4 linked regions of the Homo sapiens genome follow. The protein of the gene in region 4 interacts with the protein of the main gene of each other region in a pairwise test. Each region holds a gene or a part of one and is shown on either strand. Other genes may lie near its edges. The genes, in order: MCM6, GABPB2, HNRNPUL1 and SNRPB2.

The links.
Region 1: the proteins of SNRPB2 (region 4) and MCM6 interact in binary tests that used the Homo sapiens proteins (3 or more experiments, as listed by UniProt).
Region 2: the proteins of SNRPB2 (region 4) and GABPB2 interact in binary tests that used the Homo sapiens proteins (3 or more experiments, as listed by UniProt).
Region 3: the proteins of SNRPB2 (region 4) and HNRNPUL1 interact in a two-hybrid assay, tested with the Homo sapiens proteins (one large-scale study listed by BioGRID and IntAct).

What each region holds. Positions count from the first base shown.
Region 1 is NC_000002.12:135,865,099-135,870,092, forward strand, and holds part of MCM6 (DNA replication licensing factor MCM6), read right to left. Parts: intron 3,763-4,994; coding exon 3,513-3,762; intron 1,631-3,512; coding exon 1,465-1,630; intron 1,180-1,464; coding exon 1,034-1,179; intron 66-1,033; coding exon 1-65. UniProt on the Homo sapiens protein: Acts as a component of the MCM2-7 complex (MCM complex) which is the replicative helicase essential for 'once per cell cycle' DNA replication initiation and elongation in eukaryotic cells.
Region 2 is NC_000001.11:151,072,728-151,077,721, forward strand, and holds part of GABPB2 (GA-binding protein subunit beta-2), read left to right. Parts: intron 1-311; exon of another isoform or gene 312-430; intron 431-4,994. UniProt on the Homo sapiens protein: May function as transcription factor capable of interacting with purine rich repeats (GA repeats).
Region 3 is NC_000019.10:41,266,593-41,271,586, reverse strand, and holds part of HNRNPUL1 (heterogeneous nuclear ribonucleoprotein U-like protein 1), read right to left. Parts: intron 3,365-4,994; coding exon 3,242-3,364; intron 1-3,241.
Region 4 is NC_000020.11:16,732,347-16,737,340, reverse strand, and holds part of SNRPB2 (U2 small nuclear ribonucleoprotein B''), read right to left. Parts: intron 81-4,994; coding exon 1-80. UniProt on the Homo sapiens protein: Involved in pre-mRNA splicing as component of the spliceosome. Associated with sn-RNP U2, where it contributes to the binding of stem loop IV of U2 snRNA.

The sequences.
Region 1 (4,994 bases), on a different chromosome or scaffold from region 4:
ACAGTCATTTGGTTCTTAATGCTCTCAGCTGTCTGTTCCTCATCTCTGAGCTCTTTCCCCCCAAACTAATGGTAGAGAACAAAGGAAGAATCATTAGTATAGAAGCAGTCAAAAGAGCATAAAGGAGAAGAAACTTCATTACAAACACAACATAGCATGGGAAGTCAACCTCACAATTTATTGACTGTAAAGGTTTAAAAAAAAACAACTCCCCAAACTAGTAAGCCCTCAGTTAACAAAGACACTTAAGGGTATGTCATTTGTCCAGTGAGTTAAATAGAAAAAAAGCTACCTGAATGCTCAAGAGATAAGCGATAGCAGAATGTTAATCACTGACATAAAGATGCAAATAAAATAAGAGAATATTATGTTCACTCCCTTTTTCCAATACTGAACTATTTTCCAAACTCCCATTTATGACACAGAATCAAGTTAACTGAATGATACTGCCAGGGGTTCATCATTCTCAGAAGTTTACTTCCCAGATTACTAAATCTTTTTATTTGTATTTCCTCCAGAAGAATAACAGAGGAACTATGAAACTTTAAAACAAAAAACAGCGTGGATAATTTGTACCACTGCACTTAAAAGCATTGAGCTTTTATGTAAGACATCAAATAAGACTTTTTTTCAAGATCAGAAAGGCATACGTCAAAAGATTTGGTTTTAAAACTCATCAAATCTTAACCCCATCCCGTGCTCTCAACATTGATGAGACAGCCCAGATGTTTCAGAATCCTATCATTTCGTGGCAGCTCAGGGTAGGTGTTTCTTAAGCTGTCACTCTACTAAGACTCACTGTTGGCCTGCCTGGCCAACAGAGCAAGACCTCATCTCTAAAAAAGTTTTTTTAATTAGCTGGGTGCAGTGATTCACACCTATAATCCCAGCTACTCAGGAGGTTGAGATGGTAGGATCACTTGAGCCCAGAAAGTGGAGGCTACAGTGAGCCATGACTTTGCCATTGCACTCCAGCCTGGGTGACAGAGAGAGACTGTTTCAAAAACAAACAAAAACCCCCAAAACGACTGACCCTTGGGTTGGTTGGCGCAACACAGCAGGCAAGAAAGACCAGCCTATAAGAAAGGTCCCTAACACCAAGGGCCCGGAGTCCTCGAATGCCTTCTGTCTCATATCCATCAACACCACTGACACGGGAATTAGTTTCTGCACGTGCTCCTGAAACAGAATGATAGGTTGTTTCACAACTTAAATATTAAAGGTGCTGAACATCAAAATTGCTCAAATAAATGAAAGCTATAAATCCAAAGACTTCACTTAAGCCTTGAATACTTTCAGAATAGCACCATTTGTGGCAAAACCAATTTGTTTTTATTCTCATCACACTTCGTTCCTCAGCTTCTGATTGGTAGCCAAAAAGAAGACAATGAAGATGTGGGAAGCTAGATACTGTGCAGTTTAGGTAACTGAGAATTTGTTAAATTTGAGCCACAGATTACTGACCTGGTGTGCTAAGCTTGGAGACGTCAGGCACAACAATCAGTGTCCCTGTAAAGTCACACTTGTCACCAGCTTGAGCTGATTCCACAGCTTCAGCCCTTAAAATTACTTCTAAACTGCGGGGGATACTCCCTCGAGGAAGCTCAGCTTGGGTCTCTTGAATACGAACCTGTAATACAGACAAACAACCAACCAAGAATGAGAAGCAATACCTTTCAGATGCCATATAATCTAAATTAAATACCACAAATACGGACGTATTCTAAACTATCTGACCCATTAGCAGACTTTTCACATGTACCAACATTTATCCTAAAAATTATCTACTCTAAAACTCCTTTTAGTCAAATAGTTCAATTTGGCAAGAGATTACATCTATTTAAAAACTCCATGATGATTCAAGCAGCAGAGAAAAAAAAAACTTCACTTTTACTCATTAAAAAATAATTTTTTTCTTTGTTCAAAATGACTCCAAATATCTGTTCCATGCTCCATCTTCTCCTAAGCTTTAAGATAATTTTACAGAAAATTTCAAATACACCTTTTATACCCTCCACTTCAACACAACTGCTAACATTATTTACAGATACATGTTTTTTTACTATGTATTTGAACACAGTTGTGAACATCAAGAAACTTCATACCTAAATATTTTAGCATTCATCTCTAAGAATAAAGACAATCCTGTTACAATATCATTATCACAACCAAGATAATTAAACAATATTTAATTTCATAAAATTACATATCTTCTATTATCTAGTCCATCTTCAAATGTCTTGTCAAGAGTGTCCTTTATACAGTTGTGTTCCCCCCCCCAAACTAAGACCCAATCTAGATTCATACTTTATAAGATAAGACATCTCCTACCCAAAGCTGTTGGTAAAATATGTGCATCTTATAAGCTACCAGGTTAATGTAAGAAAGCCAAATAAGGAGAATGATTATCAGAGCAATATAAATAATATTAAATTCATCTGATAATAATTATTCCATACTTGAGCTGCTTCAGCTTTTCTTTCCATTTTGTATGTCCCATAAAATTAAGTCCTGCTGAAATCTGAGGGTCCCCTTCATTCTTACTACTGCCATCCATCACCTCTTGCCCAGGTAACTGAAATTGCCTATTACCCTCTGTTAAACCCATCACGGACTTATTCAGTTTGCTTTTAAAAAAAAACACACAGGCTGGGTGCAGTGGCTCACGCCTGTATCCCAGCACTTTGGGAGGCAGAGGCAGGCGGATCACGAAGTCAGGAGATCGAGACCATCCTGGTTTAACACGATGAAACCCTGTCTCTACTAAAAATACAAAAAATTAGCCGGGTGTGGTGGTGGGCACCTGTAGTCCCAGCTACTCGGGAGGCTGAGGCAGGAGAATGGCGTGAACCCAGGAGGCGGAGCTTGCAGTGAGCCGAGATCGCGCCACTGCACTCCAGCCTGGGTGACAGAGAGAGACTGTCTCAAAAAAAAACAAAAAACAAAACAAAACAAACACACACCCACACACACAAACTACCTTCCCACTATATTCCCACTGCTTATTAAGATAGGCTCAAACTCCTCAGCCTAAGATTTAGGGATCCAAGTACCTCCAGGTCTCACATCAAATCATCTCTCAGATGATCTCCAATTTGGCTCCTTTACTTCAATCATGATAATCCTCATTGCTTCCAAGCTAGCCTGTCCTATTCATGCTTTCCTTTCTATGCAGCAAATGGAAATCTTACACTAACAAGTTGCTATTTCTTTAAGTTTTCTTAACTCCAGTTCATAATGACAACCACCACCACCTAGTTACCATTTATTCTTTGACAAATACATCTTGTCAGTCTTAAGGAACTTCCAAGTTACTGAAAGTTAAAACAAATGTATATACTAACAATTATAATTTACATGAACAGTTTTGGGCTTAACTTTGTAGTCATTTTGATGATGCTTAACTTACATAAAAATTGAGTTGAACATTATCTAAATAAGCTATTGCAAGGGCCTAGAAGTGAATTATTATCATAGATGGACTCTGATCTAAACAGATGTTAAATAAATACCTTTTGAAAATCAACAAATCTTGATTTATTTGTATCCAGTAAGAATCTCCTCCTGTTGGCACAAACTGGATTTCGGCAGATGTTTGGCTGTGTGTATTTGAACTGCTGTTCTACATCCCTGATCACTGTCTGACAGTCCAAGCACAGAAAAGTTCCGCTCACAAGCTCTGGGTGAACTGGGTGAGTCCGCACCACCTGCCCACTGATGCGAGTGAGCAAACCAATTCTGGATGAGGTGAGCTCTCGAATCCTGTTTAAAGACAAATGTCCCATTAGTAAACATTCATCTCTTAACTAAGAATCTTTCCATTTTAGTGAGAGGGTATTCAAAGATAATTTATGTTTAAAAAAAAAATTCAAGAGACAAGGTATTCTTTGGACTCTCCTATAAGAATAATTTAGTCAACGTGCCCAATCCTAAATTATATGACGTATATGTATCCAGAACAAAATATATAAATGAACTAAAGGATGCCAAAAAAATGAAAATTAAAATTATAAAACAGAACGGGCTGGGCGCAGTGACTCACACCTGTAATCCCAGCACTTTGGGAGACCAAGGTGGGCGGATCATGAGGTCAAGAGATCAAGACCATCCTGGCCAACATGGCGAAACCCCACCTCTACTAAAAATACAAAAACTAGCCAGTCGTGGTGGCGGGCGCCTGTAATCCCAGCTACTCGGGGAGCCGAGGCAGGAGAATTGTTTGAACCCGGGAGGTGGAGGGTGCAGTGAGCCAAGATCGTGCCACTGCACTCTGGCCTGGGTGACAGAGCAAGACTCTGTCTCAGAAAAAAAAAAAAACAAAAACAGAATGATCCTGTTTTTGTTTTATATGCAAATACTTTTTTGCTTACCCGCAATTTCTAAAAAAAAAAGCATGTGTTACATAATAATCCTATCATGAGAAAAAATTTTGTACTCAAAGTTCAGAAACACTTCCTTTACAAACCCATTTTATGTGAAGTAATTTGGTAATTTTATAATTTCAGTAGTTTAACTTTTCAAAATATCACTTCAATTTTATCCAGTAAATTTATTCTTAAAATAACTGCCAAAGGGGTGTTTGAAAATTATGCATTTAAACCAACAAAAATTTCCAGAGATTCAGGAATTTCTAGAATTTCATATTTTCTCCCTTGATCAATTTTCTCCCAAATTTCCCTAAAAGGCGCCCTAAAATGTGATAATCCTAAAAATTTGCTTCACTCCCTTTACATCTAATCCCATCTCCATAGGAAAATACATTTCTCCAACACTAAACTTTCTGGATAAGTGGGTATAACTCCTACAAAAGTCAACCTTCTACAAAATCTGAATGCAAACCACTATTTTTTCCTCCTGGTATTTTACAGCATCAATTTTATAAGTACTTGTTTTATAATTATTGTGATTATCAATTATGAAAAAGTAATTTTACAGCAACAAACCTATTTTTTGCATGATTTAGGTAGAAAACCTAAGCCAAAAGACTTCACAGA
Region 2 (4,994 bases), on a different chromosome or scaffold from region 4:
TCCCAGCTACCCAGGAGGCTGAGGCAGGAGAATGGCTTGAACCCAGCAGGCAGAGGTTGCAGTGAGACAAGATCGCGCCATTGTACTCCAGCTTGGGCAACAGGAGCAAAACTCCATCACAAACAAACAAACAAACAAACATACTTTATCCAGTCCCCTATTGATATATATTTAGGTTCTTTTCAATCTTTTTATTTCTTTTTATTTTTAGTTTTACTTTTAGAGACAGGGTCTTGCTCAGTACTTTATCCCATCCCCTATTGACATATATTTAGGTTCTTTTCCATCTTTTTTTATTTTTTTGTTTTTAGAGACAGCGTGTTGCTCAGTCACCCAGGCTGGAGTGCAGTGATCATAGCTCATCGCATCCTTGAACTCCTGGGCTTAAGCTATCCTCCCGCCTTAGCCTCCTGAATAGCTAGGACCACAGGTATGGGCCACCACACCCTGCTAATTTTTTTATTTTTGTATTTTTGTAGAGACAGAGTCCCTCTGTGTTGTCCCGGCTGGGATCAAATTCCTGGCTTCAACTGATCCTCCTGCTTTGGCTTCCCAAAGCACTGGGATTTATTTTATTCATCTCCAAAATCCTAGAAGGCAAGTGAGACAGATTTTGTTTCCTCAGTTTATGTATAGGGAAAGTGGAGGTACAGCCAGCAAGGGAGAACATGTTAGTTGTCTGTAGTCAAGGAGTCAGAAGTGCCTAGACTGTTTTCTGATGTATCAGGCTTCATCTCTTGTCTGGTTGATGGGCCACCAGGCAGGTATTGACCACCTGCCAGAACCAGCATGGACAAGATACTGGGAGAATGGCATATAGTTCCCCTCAAAATGCTGTGTTTTTTGTTTGTTTTTTGTTGTTTTGTTTTGTTTTATTTTAAGTGAAAGCAAGTTGCTTGAGAAAGTAAAGGAAGGCCGGCGCGGTGGCTCATCCCCGTAATCCCAGCACTTTGGGAGGCTGAGGCGGGCAGATCACAAGGTCAGGAGTTCAAGACCAGCCTGGCCAACATGGTGAAACCCCGTCTCTAATAAAAATACAAAAATTAGCTGGGCATGGTGGCGTGCATCTGTAGTCCCAGCTACTTGGGAGGCTGAGGCAGGAGAATCACTTGTACCCAGGAGGCAGAGTTTGCAGTGAGCCAAGATCGCGCCACTGTACTCCAGCCTGGTGACAGAGCAAGTCTCTGGCTAAAAAAGAAAGTAAAGAAAAAAAGAATAGCTACTCCATGGGCAGTATTATTATGGTTATTTCTTTTTTTTTTTTTTTTTTTGAGAGTCTTGCTCTGTCGCCCAGGCTGGACTGCAGTGGCGCTATCTCGGCTCGCTGCAAGCTCCGCTTCCTAGTTCATGCCATTCTCCTGCCTCAGCCTCCTGAGTAGCTGGAATTACAGTCACCTGCCACGGCGCCCGGCTAATTTTTTGTATTTTTAGTAGAGACGGGGTTTCACCATGTTAGCCAAGATGGTCTCGATCTCCTGACCTCGTGATTCTCCCGCCTCAGCCTCCCAAAGTGCTAGGATTACAGGCGTGAGCCACCGCGCCCGGCTGGTTATTTCTTGATTGTATGCTAAACATGCTTCCGCTTTTTTTTTTTTTTTTTCCAGACGGAGTCTCGCTCTGTCGCCCAGGCTGGAGTGCAGTGGCGTGATCACGGCTCACTGCAAGCTCCACTTCCTGGGTTCACGCCATTATCCTGCCTCAGCCTCTCGAATAGCTGGGACTGCAGGCCCCCGCCACCATGCCCAGCTAATTTTTTTTTTTTTTTGTATTTTTAGTAGAGACGGGGTTTCACCACGTTAGCCAGGATGGTCTCGATCTCCTGACCTCATGAGCCGCCCTCCTCAGCCTCCCAAAGTGCTGGGATTACAGGCGTGAGCCACCGCACCCAGCAGCCTCCTCTTTTTAGACCATATAGGGTAACTTCCTGACATTGCCATGGCATTTGTAAGCTGCCATGGCATGGCACTGGTGGGAGTGTAGCAGAGAGAACAACCAGAGGTCACTCTTGTCCTCTTGTCGCCATCTTGCTTTTGGTGGGTTTTAGCCAGCTTCTTTACTATGGCCTGTTTTATCAGCAAAGTCTTTATGATCTGTATCTCGTGCTGACCTCCTATCTCATCCTGTAACTAAGAATGCCTTAACTGACTGGGCACAGTGGCTCACACCACTTTGGGAGGCCGAGGTGGGTGGATCACTTGAGGTCAGGAGTTCAAGACCAGCCTGGCCAACATGGTGAAACCCTGTCTCTACTAAAAATACAAAAATAAGCCAGGCAGTAGTGGCACACGCCTGTAATTCCAGCTACTCGGGAGGGTGAGGCAGGAGAATTGCTTGAGCATTAGAGGCAGAGGTTGTGGCGAGCCGAGATCGTGCCACCGCACTCCAGTCTGGGCGACAGAGTGAGACAGTCTCAAAAAACAAAACAAGGGCCAGGCGCAGTGGCTCATGCCTGTAATCCCAGCTCTTTGGGAGGCTGAGGCGGGCAGAGGTCAGGAGATCAAGACCATCCTGGCTAACACGGTGAAACTCCATCTGTACTAAAAATACAAAAAATTGGCCGGGCACGGTGGCTCATGCCTGTAATCCCAGCACTTTGGGAGGCCCAGGAGGGCAGATCACGAGGTCAGGAGATCGAGACCATCCTGGCTAACATGGTGAAACCCCATCTCTACTAAAAATACAAAAAATTAGCCGGGCATGGTGGCGGGCGCCTGTAGTCCCAGCTACTCGGGAGGCCGAGGCAGGAGAATGGCGTGAACCCAAGAGGCGGAGCTTGCAGTGAGCCGAGATTGTGCCACTGCACTCTAGCCTGGGCGACAGAGCGAGACTTTGTCTCAAAAAAAAAAAAAAAAAAAAAAAAAAATTTAGCCAGGTGGGAGACTGGGACAGGAGAATCGCTACAACCTGGGAGGCGGAAGTTGCAGCGAGCTGAGACTGCACCACTGGACTCCAGCCTAGGCAACAGAGCGAGACTTCATCTCAAAAAAACCCCCCCCAAAAAAACCCAAAAAAACACAAAACAAAACAAAAAAAGAATGCCTTAATGGGAATGCAGCCCAGTAGGTCTCAGCCTTATTTCACCCAACTCCTATGCAAGATGGAGTTGCTCTGGTTCAAACACCTCTGACATTTCTCCCATCCCTTTTATTAGAGAACCCTTAATCCTAGGGGTTACAAAGAAATAAAGATCCATCTTCTGTAACTTTTTCAGGGTGAATAGGGGCGATGATATTCCTGCCTGACTCTTAGGGTCTCTTGTATTCAGGGTTCAGAGAGGAGCTCAGTCAGAAAGCATCAGTATGGTGAGAGCTATTCATAACTCCAACAAAAGGTGATATCTGGAAGATTAAAAGGTGTTCAGTTTAAGAAAACATTCAGTAAGCTTATCCTGCATTCCTACACAAAGAGTACAACAGCAATATACTCCTCAACAGTAAAGCAAAATAAGCAAAACTATCCCAAGTAAATTAAATAAGAAGGTTTTCCATGAACTGGGCAACTGTTGGAACCAAGCTGATTTGGGGTTACTAGCTGATTCCAGTATGTGCCCAGAATTAGAATATTGATCCAGATTTTTACATTACCCATTCCTTTTGTTTCTTGTGAGCAGCAGCCAGAGATCACTGGTTGGTTCACAGGAATAAGCAGAGTTAATCTAAGTTGCAGAAAAAAACTTAAAAACAACTGATGAGACTAGAATTTTTATTTTTTTTATTTTTTGAGACAGAGTCTTATTCAGTCACCTAGGCTGGAGTGCAGTGGCACAATCTTGGTTCACTGCAAGCTCTGCCTCCTGGGTTCAAGCAATTCTCCTGCATCAGCCTCCGGAGTAGCTGGGATTACAGGCATATGCCACCACGTCCGGCTAATTTTTGTATTTTTAGTAGAAACGGGCTTTCACCATGTTGGCCAGGCTGGTCTCGAACACCTGACCTCAGGTGATCCACCCGCCTCAGCCTCCCAAAGTGCTGGGATTACAGGTGTGAGCCACTGTGCCTTGCCAGTCTCCCATTTTTACTAAAGGCAAATCATGGTAAAATAGATTGGCTTTATTAAACTTGGTCTGATTTTTTTTTTTTTTTTTGAGATGGAGTCTCACTCTGTCGCCCAGGCTGGAGTGCAGTGGCGCAATCTCGGCTCACTGCAAGCTCCACCTCCTGGGTTCATGCCATTCTCCTGCCTCAGCCTCCCGAGTAGCTGGGACTACAGGTGCCTGCCACCACACCCGGCTAATTTTTTGTATTTTTAGTAGAGACGGGGTTTCACTGTGTTAGCCAGGATGGTCTCAATCTCCTGACCTCGTGATCCGCCCTCCTGGGCCTCCCAAAGTGCTGGGATTACACTTGGTCTGATTATTTGTATAAAGTGCAGCAAGAATAATGATTTTTCACATAGGCTTTTTAAATTGGCTTTGAAAGAACTTTGTTCCGTAAAAGGAATCTCACATAAGACTTACAAAGCCAATTAAAGCCCGTTGGGAAAACTGGCCTCATACCTTGTCTAAAGTCCCTGTACAGGGTTCCTGATCTGTGGTAAGTAAAGAGTGTCACTTTCTGACTTTCTGACAGGCCCAGGAGCCCCACATTATCCTGGGACCTCAGGAGGGGAGGAATTTATCCAACTCATAGGTTTTTTTTTTTTTTTTTTTGAGATGGAGTCTCACTCTCTCACCAGGCTGGAGTGCAGTGGCGCAATCTCGGCTCACTGCAGCCTCTACCTCCCGGATTCAAGTGATTCTTCTGCCTCAGCCTCCTGAGTAGCTGGGACTACAGGCATGCAACACCACGCCCAGCTAATTTTTGTATTTTTAGTAGACACAGGGTTTCACCATGTTGGCCAGAATGGTCTTGTTCTCTTGACCTTGTGATCCGCCGCGCCCGGCCACTCATAGGTATTTGAGGGTATAAACCCATGGCTGGGCTCAGCTTTAAAAAAAAAAGAGAGGCCAGGCGCAGTGGCTCACGCCTGTAATCCCAGCACTTTGGGAAACCGAG
Region 3 (4,994 bases), on a different chromosome or scaffold from region 4:
GAATCAGTGCCTAACCAAGAGCAAACCACAGATGTAGGCTACCTTCATTTCTCCCACAGCATTAATCCCTGATGCTGAAGCTCATTCACATCTACTCATTTCTGCATTCAACCCCAGACCATTTTGGATCACTCCCCAGCTTCGGCATGTGGACCACATCTCTCAGAAAAGTCTCCTGGTTCTCTAGGGCTGGGATGGTGCTCAGCCATCCTGAAGAGAGCTTCCCTGGTTCCCAGCAATAGGTTGGGCTCACACAGGGCTCCTGATGAATGTCTGTGGATAACGGCACAGAAAATATTCTCCTGTGGCTGAATGATCCTACAAGTCTCACAGAGCCTGACACAAATCTGCGGTTTAACCTACATTCAGTAAAGTTCTGAGCCACCCACAAGAAATGTCTGGGGATTTAACTTTGTGGATGAACCAGAATGGCGTTAGACAAAATCAACCAGATACACTAAGAAAAGGCACTGGGAGGCCACAACACAGTAAAAGCAGCACAAAACTGGGGGTCAGTCCGGGCTCCATCAGTTCTCAATAGTGGGACCCTGCTTTCCAAATAGTAAGGCACAAATGATAAGGAATGCTGCTTATTAACCAAGAGGACTAGCCTGGGAGCAAGTATGCTAGGTTGTAGCCCCAGCTCTGCCATCGGACAAGCCAACTCCTCAATCTATAAAATGGGGAGGAGAGGCCAGGCGCAGTGGCTTACACCTGTAATCCCAGCACTCTGGGAGGCCGAGGCAGGCAGATCATGAGGTCAGGAGATTGAGACCATCCTGGCCAACATGGTGAAACCCCACATCTACTAAAAACACACAAAAAATTAGCTGGGTGTGGTGGCACGCCCGTAGTCCCAACTACTTAGGAGGCTGAGGCAGGAGAATCACTTGAACCTGGGAGGCAGAGGTTGCAGTGAGCCAAGATCACACCATTGTACTCCAGCCTGGGCAACAGAGCGAGACTCCATCTCAAAAAAAAAAAAAAAAAAAAGGGAAGGGAGAGTTGGCATCATGGGGAACTTTGTTCTGTAAAGACATATACTTAACATGATTGGGAAATCCTAAGTTTAAACGATACAACACAAGGTTTTTTGTCTATTTTTTTATTAAAAAAAATATTTTCAGCAACACCAGCCCAAGAAGACACAAGGTTTTTAAATTTAATTAAAAAAAAAATTTTTTTGGAGACAGAGGCTTACTGTTGCCCAGGCTGGAATGCAGTGCTGCCATCATGGCTCATGGAGCCTCAACTTCCTAGCTCAAGTGATCCTCCCACCTCAGGGTCCAGAGTAGGTGGGACTTGGCCGGGTTCAGTGGCTCACGCCTGTAACCCCAGAACTTTGGGAGGCTGAGGCGGGCGGATCACCTGAGGTCAAGAGTTTGAGACCAGCCTGGCCAACATGGTAAAACCCCGTCACTACTGAAAATACAAAAATTAGCCAGGTGTGGTGGCAGGCGCCTGAAATCTCAGCTACTTGGGAGGCTGAGGCAGGAGAATCGCTTGAACCCGAGAGGCGGAGGTTGCAGTGAGCTGAGATCGCGCCATCGCCCTCCAGCCTGGGGAACAAGAGCGAGACTTCGTCTCAAAAAAAAAAAAAGAGTAGCTGGGGCTATAGGATTGTGCAACCATGCTCAGGTAATATTTTTATTTTTTATAGAGACAGGGTTATGTTGCCCAGGCTGGTCTTGAACTCCTGGACTCAAGCAATCCTCCCACCTCAGCCTCCCAAAGTGTTGGGATTACAGGCATGTAACAGCCATCGCACTCGGCCTGTTTTTATTTTTAAGGCAAGGTCTTCCTGTCGCCCAGGCTGCAGTGCCGTGCACGATCATAGCTTACTGCAGCCTTGAACTCCTGGGCTCAAGTGATCCTCCTGACTCAGTCTTCTGAGTAGCTGGGACTACAAGCATGTCACCATGCTCAGGCAATTTTTAATTTTTTCTAAAGACAACAGGGGTCTCACTATGTTGCCAGGCTAGTCTTGGATTCCTAGGCTCAAGTGATCCTCCTGACTTGGCCTCCTAAAGCGCTAGGATTACAAGCATGAGCCACTGTGTTCTAACCTACTTTTAATTTTAGGTTTTTTTTTTTTTTTTTTTTTTTCGTGACAGGGTCTTGCACTGTCACCCAGGCTGGAGTGTAGTAGTGTAATCATAGCTCACAGCAGCCTCAAACTCCTGGGCTCAAGTGATCCTCCTACCTTTGTCTCCTGAGTAGCTTTAACTATAGGTGTGTGCATGTAGTCAGTCATAGCCATGCCTGGCTAATTTTTAAATTTTTTGTAGAGAAGGGGTCTCACTATGTTGCCCAGTCTGGTCTGGAACTCCTGGTCTCAAATGATCCTACTACCTTGGCCTCCCAAAGTGTTGGAATTATAGGTATGAGCCAGCGCACCTGGCCTGAGGCCTGACACACACTTTCTTTTTTTTTTTTTAAATTCTGGACTTCTCAGAGCCTTTAATGTTCTAACAAGCACAGTGAATTTCCAAGAGACGATATAGCACATGCTACAGTTTCCAGACACATTTGGCTAAGGAACCCTTTTCTGAGAATCCCCTAATAATATCCCCTGAAACAATAATCTTCAGAACATGAGAAATACCAGATTAGACTTAGAAGGCTCTTTCTGGCTCCCCCATTCTAAGATTCTAAATAAGATTCAAGTATTAGTCTAGGGGTCTCAACTCTCCAGGGTGCTTATACTAACATCTTTTTTTTTTTGAGATGCAGTTTCACTCTTGTTGCCCAGACTGAGTGAAGTGCAATGACGCGATCTCGGCTCACTGCAACCTCCGCCTCCTGGGTTCAAGTGATTCTCCTGCCTCAGCCTCCCAAGTAGCTGGGATTACAGGTGCCTGCCACCATGCCTGGCTAATTTTTGTATTTTTAGTAGAGACGGGTTTCACCATATTGGCCAGGCTGGTCTCGAACTCCAGACCTCAGGTGATCCACCTGCCTCGGCCTCCCAAAGTGCTGGGATTACAGGAGGGAGCCACCACACCCGGCTGATACTAACATCACTTTTTTACAGATACCATGGAACCTCCCCTCTCCCAACACTTGGAAATAGGACTGAGATCTTTCCTTTAAACAATTCTTGCCAGAGTGACAATGTTTAGATGAACTGCCCAAGAAAAAAGATGCACAGTTTCTCTGGGAAGACCCGCTCTAAGCAGGGGGTAAAGGCTCCATGTAGATTGTTTCCATCCAAAGAGATGAACCATGTGTATTTTCCTACCTGGACGATAGGCCTGCTGCTGCTCCATTTCCAGTGGTCTCCTCTCGTAGCCTGACTCGTTTTCTTGTTTGATGACTTGGGTATCGTAGAATTGGTTCTGCCTGGTAATATTGTCCATGGCATCTTAAAACAAAATTAAAAATGGCCAATTAGAGGGGCGGTTCATGAAGAACCCTGGACCAAAGCATCCAGAAGGCATCTGCAGGTCCAGGAGCTCAACTAAGAGTGGTAAGAATAATAATATTAACTATTCATGGCATGCATACTATACTCCAGAGCCTGGGATACAGCTGAAGACAAGCTTGCCCCACTGAAGCCTTCAGTTTAGTGAGACAGACAAATCTTAAAGACACACAAAAATTTAATATGATTGTGTTGAAGGCTACAAAGTAGTACCAGGAATGAAGAAAGGGACCTGGAAAATAACAGATAAGCCTTGATTCAAAGGATACACAGGTAATGACTCAGTGATGAGAATGGAGAATGTTACTGGGGTTGGGATAACACGTGTGAAAGCTCAGAGGTGGAACTAAAACCAGAAATTCCCTCAAGAACCTTGCAGCCAAACCCAGAGAGAACTTTAGAAAGCTAGGATGGGCAGCATACAGGCTCTCCTCCCCAGGGGCTAGCTCTCAGTTAGGGCCCCAAGGGCCCTACCAGTGGCTATGCCAGGAGCCGTGAGCCAGAACCAAAGGGAAGGAGAGACTATTCTGCCACTTGCTAACTGATCGGATTCCTTCTCAGAGGATAAATACATCTGGGCACAAACCAGGTGCAGCCCAAAGGGAGGAAAGTCACAGGTCATGTGGTTTGCTACCGGTCTGTTTACCAAGGTTGAAGGAGGGCTTAAGGGAGGCATGAAGGGGGCTCAAAGGACTTTGTTGTAGCAAGTAAGGGAGAGAGGAAGAAATAGCATTATCTCCTTAATTGGAATATGGGGCCCTTTCAAACTATTCTGCTGCTTCCAGGCTCCAAGCACAATGCTCCTCTTCCCACAAAGCCTCTTTTCCCCAGCATCTCTCTCCTGTGTTCACAGAGGCAGCCCCTCCTGGAGAAGCTATAATTCTAGGGTCCTTCTCCATTCTCTAAAACATCCCTCTTCTCATAAAAGGCAGGCCCAGTGATAAGCCCTTCACATGTGATCTCATTCATAACACCCCTCAGGGGTTGGAGGGGCTGTGAACACACTATTTGTTGATTAACCCCATTTTACACATTAAGGAAACCAGGCCCACAGAGGTGAAGTGACTTGCCAATATCTTTAAGCCAGATTTGAAACGAAGTCTGTCTTAGTCTAGAGTCTACGCTCCAAAGCACCTAATTCGCTTTCCTCTCAGAGATGACTCTCTGCCCAGACCACCAGGTCACTACTAACCCACTACCCTTTCTTGCTAGGCATTCCTGCCACGATCCCTCCTGCTCTAGACACACACACAGGCCCACTCCTTTCTTCACAAGTCTCTGCAATGGGAAGTCCTCTTTCCAGCACCTGGGTCCTCGATAATCTCTAGGCCACTGCCTACCCCAAATCCACACTCCTCCCTCCGGGAAATTCTCTTATGAACAAGTATCCAATTCCAACCCCAAATCCTGTCTCTTCTGTTACCTCATTTCTCTCCTTATCCCCTTAGCCCCAAGTCCCAGGGTGCCCTCTTTTCAGAAAAACTCCACAAACTCTTACGCCAGAATCCCTTCTACTTACTCCTTAACCTTTCCAGTCCCCCCATTTCCCAGTCCTACTAGAAAGCTGCCC
Region 4 (4,994 bases):
TCTTTTTTCTTTTCTTTGTCAGCAAAAGTTCCACGCATTTTTGATATTATATCCGAATCTGTTTTTGCATACTGTATTCGCTGTTTTAATTATTTGAAAACAGGTTACTTCTCATGCTGAAGGATGTTTACACTAGTCATTAATATTTCAAATTTCATTACGCAAATACACTACAAGCTAATTTTAAACATATCCCTAAGAAAATCTGTCAGAATATACTGAGTGCCAAATGGAAGTAAACTGTGGGCTATAATTCATAATTTAGACAAAGTTAGATTCAAGTGTGTTTATTAGATTAAAAAAACATATATTTTCATGTGAGAAACACAGGACTTTGAAATATCTGTACCACGGCTTCTCTCCATTTAATCAAAGAATAGAGAAAACTGCATTGAAGTGTTAAAGGAACAAATGAGTGGGCTCCACCAGCGGGCTTTGGAATCCTGAACTGTTCAAATCTCCTCAGTGCCTGAGGATCTGGCTCAAGATCAGCTATTCTAATCCAGAGGTATTCAACAAACAACATATAAAACAAACAAAAGCAAAACTGCTCAGCTTGACATAGAACTGTGGCTCCAGAGCCCACTGGAGGCCAAATGCCCTTTCCTCTCCAAACCTACCCTCACCCCACAGTCACAGAGGGAGCACCTAGGGATGCAATTTGAGGGAGCTGGTGAAAAATAAAGAAAATCGCCATTCTAGACTAATCCTGTTTTACAGATAGAATAGGCCCACAGAACACTAGGGCTGGTTTGGCAGAGTCCCCACAGAACAACTTTTCTGGCAGAAAACTAGATGGAAAATTTCTTTTAAACCATTTTTAATGAGTTTATTTGAATTTTTTTTCATTTTTTAGAATTCTAAACATCATAAATGTGAGGATTTAAATAAAACTTTTTTGCATCGTAACTTTTTGGATGTACAGCTCTGAGTTGTAACATTTGTAAAGATTAATGTATCTACCACCACAATCAGGACACAGGGCAGTTCTATCACCTAAAAATCCCCTCATGCTTCCCCTTTGTTACCCCACCCCTCCTCTTCCAAACACTCATCTGTTCTCTGTCCCTGCTGCCCTTTCCAGAATGTCACATAGATAGGATCATACATGATATAACCTGGAGGCTGCCTTCCTTTACTTGGCATAATGTCTTTGAGATTCATCTATGCCGTTGCTTTTAACAGCGAGTAGTATTTCATCGTATTGATGTACCAATTTGATTTACATCATTCAATGAAGGATACTTGGTTTGTTTACAGTTTTTGGCGATTAGGAATAAAGCTGCTATAAGCACGTGTGTTTAAAAAAACAGACACACACAGAACAAAAACAACAACAACAAAAATGCATTGGAGAGTTGCCTTCCCCTTACCAGTGACTCTCAATAGAAGCATTGACATGTGTCGCAGCTGTGGAATGTGTCATATGGAATGTTACTTCCAATAGTTAAAAGTACAGAAGACTGGGAATGACTTTCCTTTGAATCTATCACCTTTACATGAAATGACTTTAACAGTGGAATCAACTTACTAAATTTTAAAATGTTTTAAAAGGAAACAAAAGAATGGAATCACAGATAATGTGACTGGACCACTTGCATATGCCTTTCATGCTGGCACCAAGAGGCAACAGTTACAACAGGGAAGGGTTCAAAAACTTGTCCAAGATAGTATTTGATCAATTATAGTTTGCATTCCAAATGCCTGGAAAGTAGGTAAAAGCTCTGATGTAGTAGGTCTGGGCAAACCTGGGATTCTGCACTTGTAACAAGCACAAAGAAGATGGTAATGTTATTGGCATGGGGACCACATTTTGAGTAGCCCTGGCTTAAAGCATTATCACATAACTATACTCAGCGCCAATGAACTGTCTGAATATTTCTGCCATAAGTTAAACCGTTATCTAGGTAGGACTATCTGCAATCTCCAACCTCCATTTCAAGCAAACTCTTCCTCCTTGGAGCTGAAAGAATTATTGCCTCTCTGATCAAAATGCAATAATCCTACAAATTACTACTTTGTAGTAATCTGTACAAATTACTTTGTATACAATAGGTATGCAAAATTTTATTGCCTCGTATAACAAGAATTTGATCTTGATCTGAAGAGAACAAGAAACATTTTAAAGTAGTGTGGATTACAAAGCAAAGAATTTGTCAAAACCAAGATCAGTTCTTCCTCTTCCTTTACTTCAGCTAGAGATGACTACACTGGGGAAACAAGAGGGGAGGGAGTAGGCCTAAACCCACACCTCAGAATCCCAGGCTCTTTCTGGCTGGTCTGGGCTGCCGTACCACAGTGGCTCTAAGTGTGCTTATCCCTGCATGCAACTCTGCTAGTCTTGCCATCATCATCTAACCAAAAGGAGACAGGCTGAAGGGTTAGACTAACTTCTGACTTGGTCCTAAGGGTTCCCTCACAACTCCCTTGGCTCTGCAACCTCGTGCCTGACCTGAATAGATCTTCGGTGACCTGATTTGTCTGTCCTTATGACCTAGTCACCTGTGAAAACACCTGATCTCAGCAATAGCTCTTAGCTGGCTCATTTAAACCAGTGGTTCTCAACCAGAGGTGATTTTGTCTGTCAGAGCACAGCTAGCACTAGCTGGAGACATTACTCGTTGTTATGCTACTGGCATCCTGTGGGTAGAGGCCAGGGATGCTGTTAAACACGGGGTAATGAACAAGACAGCCCCCTGCAACAAAGACTCACTCATTTCAAAATGTCCAAAGTGACAGGGTTGAGAAACGCTAGTCTAGGCTAAATACCTATTAGAGATAAAAGTCTAACCACAACTTAGAGAAGGGCAAGATTTACACTTATGCCAAAGTTTTCATGACGAAGCCCTTAGGAAGACAGTTCTACTTTATTAAGGTACTTTTGGCATTAACTAAATGCCCTTGAATCAGAGAGAGTAATTCTGTTCTGAGTTCCAAGTTATAGCAAATTTTGTTCATTTCTGATCGGTATGTTGGAGTTAAAACAGAAGAGCAACTACAACCACAGTAAGACATAAACAAGACAGCCCAAAGAACTCTATTTCCCCTCTTCTAAGATGGAGATTTGGCAGTATCTGTTACCTTTCTGTAGGAAAAGAATAGACCTCCCAAAATGCTTCAATATAATAATCAATCTAATACACTTTCCCACTAATTTTAAAAAATAATTAGTTGGCAAGGTGAGGCTGGTGCCCAACACAGCAAACAATTTCCTTTCCTGTATCTGAGTAACAGACACATGCAAACTTGTCATCTCAACTCAGCAAAATAGCTCTAAACCCTCTATGGGAAGAAACTGTACTTTCAAGTTAATATAATTTTAGATGTAAGCTAAAACCCAGGCCCTATGCTGCTGCCAACTGAGATCTCAATTATGGTGTTTCTTTATACTACTATGAGAGACCGCCTGGTTTCAGGAAACACCAATATACTAAAAATTACATTACATAGGTACCATCCCACAGTTTCCTGGGATAGGCTTTTCCACAAAAATGGTGTCCAGTCAGCTGGGAAGTGATGGGAAAAGGAGAGCTGGATAGAGGATGAGAAGAACTTGCTCTAATAACAGAAAAAAAGGTGCTGAGGCTTGAATTAAGCATCATGGTATAAAACAGGGGTCCTCAAACTACTGTCTGTAGCCAACACTGCCTGTTCTCATCTGGGACTGCTCTTCCTGCTATAAAAGCAGAGTTGAGTAGTAGTTGCAACACAGATTATCTGGCTTGCAAAGTGTAACATATTTACTATCTGGTCCTTTACGGAAAGTTTGCTGACCTGTAATGCAGAAAAAAAATCACAATACTAGCTGTTAGATTAGTTGTCAACTCCTGAGGCTGCCACTGGTTATATTACTATAACCTAGATGAACAATTAAACTTTCTATGCCTGTTTCTTCATCTGCAAAATGAATGGGTTAGATCAGCGGTCTGTACCACAGTCTGTGAGCCAAACCCTGCCCACAGGCCTGCATTAGCATGGCCTACATGAATTTTCTTAGATAATGTTAAAGGGTTGTTAAAAAACGTAAGTACATAAAAGAACAGGTAACAGAAACCATATATGGCTTACAAAGCCTAAGGTATTATGTACTTCTTTACAGTTTTTGCTGATGCCTGCATTAGACCAAAGAACAACCAATTTGTTTACCGGAGGTGGTAAAACTAACCACGGGCACAGAGCCAGTTAATAGTACAACCAGAATGAAGACCCAGCTCCTCTAAACCCTGGCCCTTGGCTCTCTGTCCAACACTCCTTCACATCACATTCTAATCGCAGAAAAAAAGCAGTTTGGAATCCACACCTAAGATATGGTGTATTCACTCATACATAGAAACCCCTTGCTTCACACTCTGTGGTCACCCTTATCTGATCCTCTACCATCTCTGACTTACATCAAGGGCCTCCTAATTGAGTTTCCCACTTCCTTTCTGTCCCTCCCACAATGCGACCTTCATCCAGCAGCTAGATGTGAATCTCATTATGTCATTCCTGAGTTTAAAACTCTCCATTCATAACCATTTCATTTCCATTGTTATTCCTAAAACCTATGAGTTTAAACCTATCATTTTTCCTTAGATCACTGTTTCATCTAGACTGTGCAGCTTCTGACACATAGTATTTCACTACGACATATTCTAAAACTTCAGACTGAATTTCCTCTTTGACTCATGACTTTTGTTTCGTAATGTTTTACAAGTTTACAAACAGGTTTCTTTTCAAGTCTTCCAGGATATTATTAATTTCTAACTTTTTGAGATAAGACTATTGCCTAGACTGCCATTATTTTTTAAAATATTCTACATCTCAATGTATTTTGTTTTTGCCCATCTGAACTGTCATAAATTAAACTCTACCACTACTGTTTTTCTATAAAAATACATAAACCCAAACACACATAATTAAAAGCAGAAAGCAATAGCCACAGTTTCAAGCATATTTACAAATCTACTGTCCCATCAATATCATTAATTTCTTGATTAAAGTGAAATAATGGA